Homo sapiens: one gene and its partner. Each later gene encodes a partner of the first gene's protein in a complex. Each region holds a gene or a part of one and is shown on either strand. Other genes may lie near its edges. The genes, in order: FBXL13 and DRC5.

Region 1 (3,819 bases):
CAGAGCCCTACCCCCCACCCCCCACTTTCTGGATACTAATCTTATTGGTTGATAGCATCAAGTTTTGGGCTGTGTTGTAAGGATCACCCAGCTGTGGCTGCTTTTTGCTATCGTTTTCCCTCTTGTTCAGGAAATCTTGTCATGAACGTGTTACAAAGACAGCAAGAGAGAAAAGATTGTATGTTTTATGAAAACCATTATTAGAGATATTAATGTTAGGGTTATGAACTAAGGTCTGGAATGGGGGGAATTTAGAATTGTCATAAAAAACAACAAAGGATGAGCTCTTGTCCTTTGCAGGGACATGAATGAAGCTGGAAATCATCATTCTCAGCAAACTATCACAAGGACAAAAAACCAAACACTGCATGTTCTCACTCATAGGTGGGAATTGAACAATGAGAACACCTGGACACAAGGCAGGGAACATCACACACGGGGGCCTGTCAGAGGGTGGGGGACTGGGGGAGGGATAGCATTAGGAGAAATACCTAATGTAAATGACGAGTTGTTGGGTGCAGCAAACCAACATGGCACATGTATACCTATTTAACAAACCTGCACGTTGTGCACATGTACCCTAGAACTTAAAGTATAATAATAATAATAAAAATTAAAAACAAACAAAAAACAGTTCTCAAACCTGGGGTTGTGTGTCATAATAGGAAGAGGTGGCCTCTAGCCCTGGCTCTGCCATTGCTATGTGACTCAAGATAATCCATTCATTCATTCATTCAACATTTCTGGAGCACCCACTCTGTGTCAGACACTATGTTCAGCACTGGGGCCACGTTGTGAGGAATAGATAAAGAACCTGTTCTCCGATCACACAACTTCTCTGAATCCCATTTCTTTGTTTGCAGTAAGAGGGCTGCACCACAATGAGTTCTCAAGACCCCCTACTCCTGCTTCTTGATTCTTTCCCATGGGAGCAAAATGTGCCCAGAAGAACAATAACAGGAAAAGTGATAACAATATTACATGCCAGACATTATGCTAGCTAATCACTTTTATATACATTGCCTCATTTTATTTTCTCAAGAATTTCCTAAAATGGGTATTATTATGCTCATTTTCCAGATGAGGAAACTAAGAGTCGAGAGGTTGAGCTACTTTTTGTTATAAGCAAGAAAGAGGTAGAGCCAGACTCAAAACCAGCCCAGCTAACTCCAAACCCAGCATTCTTCTCTCCTCCTCTGTTCATGTTTTGAAAGGCTCATTCCTCTCCCCTGGACTTTGCTCTGGGCTACTTATAAAAAGTTTACTCAAGAATTCATAGCAGTACAAAAAAAAACAAAAACAAACAAAAAAACCACCTCATTCTTGCCTTACCAGTCTTCTACTAGCTTTCCCTCCTTCCTTACCTACTCAACTTTTCTTATTCATCCCAAGAGTGATCCTGCCACTTCAGCCAAGACCAGCACTCCCACTGCTTTGCCTCCACTTGTGCTTACCTTCCACCTGGAATCTTTTTCTTTTCTTTTATTTTGAGACAGAGTCTCGCTCTGTTGCCCAGGCTGAAGAAGTGCAGTGGAGCAATCTCAGCTCACTGCAAGTTCCGCCTCCCGGCGATTCTCCTGCCTCAGCCTCCTGAGTAGCTGGGACTATAGGCGTGTGCCACCATGCCTGGCTAATTTTTTTGTATTTTTAGTTGAGATGGGGTTTCACCGTATTAGCCAGGATGGTCTCAATCTCCTGACCTCGTGATCTGCCCACCTTGGCCTCCCAAAGTGCTGGGATTACAGGCGTGAGCCACTGCACCCAGCCTGGAATTCTTTTCAGTCTTGTCTGTTGCCAAACTCTGCACTCTTTCCCAGACTTTATCTTACTCCTAAATTTAATTCATTCATCCCCTCATAGTTGTCCAACACAGTAGGAAATTCAAAAAAAGAGTACCTGAACATCTCTTTGAAGGAAAGTAAGGCACACACGGATTGCAGGAAGAGTTATAAAGAGTCGTGGGCCATTTATTAGTTAGTGTTTCCCTGAAAGAAGAGGTCTATGGTAGGAGATGATTCAAAAACTGTCCAAGGGCTTCCTTACGCTATCTTTTCCCCAAAGATGCCTTTTTCTGTTTCTCTTTTTTTCTGACTATACATGGTCACTGTAGAAAATTTGAAAACTATCCACTCTTCAGAGATAATCACTATTAGCATTTGGTGTATTTCCTTCTGTGATGGTTAATTTTATGTCACTTTGGTTAGGCTATAGTGCCTAGTTGTTTGGTCAAACACCAGTGTAAATGTTGTTGCAAAGGTTTGTTTTGTTTTTATTTTTGAGATGTGATAAACATTTAAATCAGTAGACTTTGAGTAAAGTGGACTCCCCTCTATAATGTGGGTGAACTTCATTCAGTTGAAGATGTTAAGAATAAAGACAGGTCTCCAAGACTGAGGTTTCCTGAAGAGGAAACAATTCTGCTGCAAGACTTGCAATGTAGAAATTCTGAGTTTCTAGACTACCAGCCTGGTATACCAATTTCAGATTTGCCAGCCCCCACAATCACATGACCAATTCCTTAAAATACATTTCTCACTCTGTCTCTTTCTCTCTCCATACACACACATACACACACTTGGATGTTTGTGTGTGTGTGTGTGTGTGTGTGTATGTATGTATATATACTTGGATGTAAGTATATCCTATTGGTTCTGTTTCTCTGGAGAACCCTGACTGATATACTTTGTTTTTGTTCTTCATTTCCTCCCAGTTAGCACTTTTCAAACTGTCATGTCTGTGTGTAAATCACCTGTCTTGTTCAAGTGCAGCCTCTAAGTCAGTAGTGGTGGGCTAAGATTCTGTACTTTGAACAAGCTCCCAGGTGATGCCTATGCTGCTGGTCTATGGACCACATTTTGTATAGCAAGGCCTTATATAATTAACTTTTTCTTCATGAAATAATATCATGAGCTCAGTTATTCTCCTAAAACATTAACTTGTAACTGTATTGCACCCCATCATACGAATTGCCATAAATTTGTTCAGGCTTTAGAAACATATTTCCCAAAGTCTTTTTAGAAAAATTATCCAAGTATAATCCCACCCAAAGGCCTGGCTTCTGTAGCACAATAGAAAAATACTAGAAATGTAGAAAAATTGTCCAAATATAATCCAACCCAAAGGCCTGGCTTCTGTAGCAAATCAGGCCTGCATGCTCAGCCCCTGGTTTCAAGGGCTTCCCTTAGCATTTTTTCTCTTTTCTTTTTATTTCAATAGCTATAAAAATTCCTTTGGCTTTTGTCTGGGTGCTCATATTATTAGTGTCTGCTGAGAAGGGGAACCTACTGAATAGACATGGTTCTCAGAAGCCATTCATACATTCCTCCATTTATTCATGTAATAATATTACTCAATTATCTCATCAGTTGTTATAGGCACCATGCTGGGAGCTGTATACAGGGGATTCATTTAATAACTAATCAATCATAAAATGAATATAATTGTAGTTATGATAATTACATGGTGATGTAAGTATATAACAAGAAACTGGTCTAATCTAAGGGTCAGGAACACTTCCTAAGGAAGTGACATTTGAGTTGAGCTCTGGTTGTCCTGGGGCTATGACACTCAGTTCCCTAACTTTTGGCTAGTCTTTTCTGAATAGGTGGAGGCTCTGATGACAGAACCTTGGAAGTCACCTTTAGTGAGAGGTGGCGCAAATGAAGTCTCCAAAGGTCTCCCTAGAGGTCCATTGTAGCTGCTGCTCCTCATTGTCCCTGTCATACTCTTCTGGAGATGACCCTTCAGGGGAGTTCCCCTTCTGTCTGCTTCTGGGCAGCATCTCAATTTCCCTTTACTGAATCTGAACACAATCTGATT
Region 2 (3,819 bases), on another chromosome or scaffold:
AAGCACTATTCTGTACCACCTCTCTTAGTAAATGCCCACCAAGACCCACCAAAGTAACACCTCTACCCTCTTCCTTTTGCTCCAGATCCCTACCTGTTTCAAGGACCTGCCAGTCTGAGAAGCTTCTTGTCATAAGGCCATCCAGGGGCCACGCACCCCTACCTTGCCAGCCTCCAGCATGCAGGATACCGTAACGACATCAGCATTGTTGGACCCCAGCCACTCCTCAGTCTCCACCCAGGACAATTCCTCCACTGGAGGACACACTTCAAGCACAAGCCCACAGCTCTCAAAGCCTTCAATCACACCAGTCCCTGCAAAGTCCAGGAACCCACATCCCAGGGCCAATATCCGTCGGATGCGCCGGATCATTGCTGAGGATCCTGAGTGGTCACTGGCCATCGTGCCCCTCCTCACAGAGCTCTGCATTCAGCACATTATCAGGAACTTCCAGAGTGAGTCTGTCCCTGCTTTAGGTGGGCAGGAGAAGGCCAAGAGGGGGGCTAGGTGGGTGGGGACTGTCCGGAGCCAAGACTGCAGAAGCTGGGTCCTGGGGCAGCCCCTGCTCTCCCGTATGGCATCCTCATACCCACTCAACACTTCCCTTCCACCCAGGGCCAAGACAGTTTCTCCTTCTGTTCCCACTGGCAGGTCCCACCAGACTCCCACCCACACTGCACCCTCCATGCCTCTGCCCTCTCCTTGCCTTTTCTACTCTCTCCAGCAAAACCCAGCCTGAGCCATATCTACTTCCTCCTCCAGAAAGCCTTCCCAAGTGAACCGCCCTCTACTCTGATGGAGTCTTCCATGCCATGTAAGGGCTCTTGGTTTGTTCCATATTTTGTGCTCTGTAATATTGATCCTTTCCAAAGATGGACTGCCAGCCTCTCCTACCAGATGGGGCGCTGTCTGAGGACAGGGCCATTATTTCATCTACAGCAACTATCATCACCCAGTCTCACTCATTTTACTTGTTTATTGTCAGCCTCCCCTCACTGGAATGTAAACTCCAAAAGGGAGAGCCCTGTTTGCTTACTCTTCTATCTCCAGCACGTGGGACATAGTAGTCTCTCATAGTGCTACCTCCAGTGTCTGGCACATAGTAGGTGCTCAAAAAATTTCTTGTTTTGAAATGGATGAATCAAATAAGATTGGAAGCCTCTGACCTCAGGGATTGTATCCCCCATCAGACCAGGTGATAATTGAGAGTTGGACCTGAGAGTCTTCCTCAGTCTGGGAACTCCCTGAGAACAGATGCTGAGATGTCCACCTTCAGGCAGGGAACATCCCAAAGCTAAAGGCTGTGTCCCACCCTCTGCTTGAGCCCCCCTGAGAGCAGAGGCTGTCTATCCCCTAAGCAGGGAAGGGTCTCTCCTTTGCCTGGTGCTCCCAGGCAGGCCCAGCCTGAGGCATCATGTTGAGGTGTCCCCCAACACTGTGACCCCCTGCGCTCCTTCCTCTGTTCCCAAAGAAAACCCTATCCTGAAGCAGATGCTCCCGGAACACCAGCAGAAGGTCCTGAACCACCTGTCCCCTGACCTACCACTGGCTGTGACCGCCAACCTGATAGACAGTGAGAACTACTGGCTCCGCTGCTGCATGCATCGCTGGCCCGTGTGCCACGTGGCCCACCATGGCGGCAGCTGGAAACGCATGTTCTTCGAGCGGCACCTGGAGAACCTGCTAAAGCACTTTATCCCAGGCACCACAGACCCTGCGGTGATCCTCGACCTGCTGCCGCTCTGCCGGAATTACGTGCGCAGGGTCCACGTCGATCAGTTCCTTCCGCCGGTGCAGCTCCCGGCCCAGCTCCGGCCGGGCGACCAGTCCGACTCAGGCAGCGAGGGAGAGATGGAGGAGCCCACCGTTGACCACTACCAACTGGGCGATCTGGTAGCTGGCCTGAGCCACCTGGAGGAGCTGGACCTGGTGTACGATGTCAAGGACTGCGGCATGAATTTCGAGTGGAATCTCTTCCTCTTCACCTACCGTGACTGCCTCTCCTTGGCAGCCGCCATCAAGGCATGCCACACCCTCAAGGTACTGTCTGCTCCCAGCCTTCCCCCCACCCCTTCTCAGCATCTCTCAGATTCCCTCTCCCCTCCTCTTCCTCCTCTATTATTGCCTTCTTCCTATTTCCTTCTCTTTCATTGGCCAAGTGTTTTTTAATGCACCCTGCACCAAGATACACGGTTCTGGGGGTGTAGAGATGAACAAGGCGCTGCTCTCCCAGTTCACCAGTTGGTTTCATTGAACAAACAGCTGCGCTCCAGGCCCTGTCCTAGGTGCTGAAGATTCAAGGATGAGCAAGATTATCATTTGTGCCCTCTGTAGCTAACAGTCTGATGGGATAAAGGCACTAATCAGCAATCATATAAACATAAAATTGATACTAGAATAGGGTTGCCAGATGTAGCAAATAGAAATACAGGACATCCAGTTAAATGTGAATTTCAGGTCCAGGCACGCTTGTAGTCTTCCAGAGACTGAGGAGGCTGAGGTAGGAGAATCCCTTGAGCCTCGGAGTTCAAGCCTGCAGTGAGCTGCAATCACACCACTGCACTCCAGCCTGGGTTACAAAATGAGACCCTGTCTCCAAAAATTTTGAATTTCAGATAAACAGCAAAGAATTTTTATAAGTATGTCCCGAATATTCCATGGGGCGTTCTTATTTATCTGAAATTTATTTTTAACTGGGCATCCTGTACTTTTTTCTGGTACCCCTGAATTGGGATGAATGCTATAAAGAAGAGATACTCTTATGAGAGATTGTAAAGGAGCATTTGACCTTGCAAGGGAAGGCTTCCCTGAACAAATGTCACTTACATAGAGATTAGAAGGAGGAGGACGAGTTACAGTCTCAGAGGGAGGAGCGTTCCAGACAGAGGGAGCAGTGCATACAGGCTCTATGGGCAGAGTGAACATGGCCAGCTCAAAGAGAAAGAGAAGACTGTGTGGCTGGCGCAGAGTGTGAGGTGGTCAGCCTTGCTGGGTGAAGGAGGCTTTGTCCAGGAGGCTATCTTTATCCTTAGGAGCTCTGGGACACCATCCAAGGGTTTTAGGCAAAAAAGTAGGTACCATTACTGGATTTCACATGTGAAAATGTCACTCCGTCTGTGAGGGAGGATGGCCTGGGCAGGGCAGCAGTGGACATGCAGATTACCTAGGAGATCACTGCCAAATCCAGGTGAGGGTGAGGGTCATTTCAGCGAGGGTAGTGTCTGTGGAGACTCAAAGGAGTGGAGAGAGTCAACACATATTTAGGCAGACATGTGTCTGGCATGCACCTGGCCACACTGGCACAGGGAGGATCTGAAGGAGAAGGAAGGAGAAGGAGGTGAGGTGCAAGACCTCTGGCTTGTGAGGCTGGATGGCTGGAGGGACCATGTGCAGAGACAGGGAATGTGGGAAGAGGATCAGTTTTGAGGGGGAAGAGTGTAAGTTTCAGTTTGAGGCATCTCAAAGAAGGGGTCATTTCGTTAGTTGGGTAGAGGGTCCGAAGCTCAGATGAGAGGTCTGAATTGAATGTGGGAATGTGTGCCATCTTCATGAAGGTGGCAGTTGCAGCCCTGGGTTTGGATGGAGTCTCACAGGGGAGAGCCAAAAGCAAGACAACAAGAGGCCTGGCATGTGGTCTCAGTGGAAGAAGAAGAGCTTGCCAGGAAGCCAGAGGGAGGAGGAAATGGGGAAACATGGCATTGTGTCACAGAGCAAGGGAGGGGTATGTTTCAAGTAGAGGGAGTGAGCAACGGGGTGGAATAGAGCTGAGGACTGGATTTAGTGAACATGGAGGTCACTGAGGGGGAGCTATTTCAGTGG

What was found.
Region 2: FBXL13 (region 1) and DRC5 share a complex: the UniProt entries of both Homo sapiens proteins name them as parts of the nexin-dynein regulatory complex.

Annotation. Positions count from the first base shown.
Region 1 is NC_000007.14:102,886,205-102,890,023, reverse strand, and holds part of FBXL13 (F-box and leucine-rich repeat protein 13), read left to right. Parts: intron 1-3,819. UniProt on the Homo sapiens protein: Substrate-recognition component of the SCF (SKP1-CUL1-F-box protein)-type E3 ubiquitin ligase complex.
Region 2 is NC_000006.12:44,284,185-44,288,003, reverse strand, and holds part of DRC5 (dynein regulatory complex subunit 5), read left to right. Parts: intron 1-85; 5' UTR 86-178; coding exon 179-455; intron 456-724; exon of another isoform or gene 725-814; intron 815-1,471; coding exon 1,472-2,040; intron 2,041-3,819. UniProt on the Homo sapiens protein: Component of the nexin-dynein regulatory complex (N-DRC) a key regulator of ciliary/flagellar motility which maintains the alignment and integrity of the distal axoneme and regulates microtubule sliding in motile axonemes.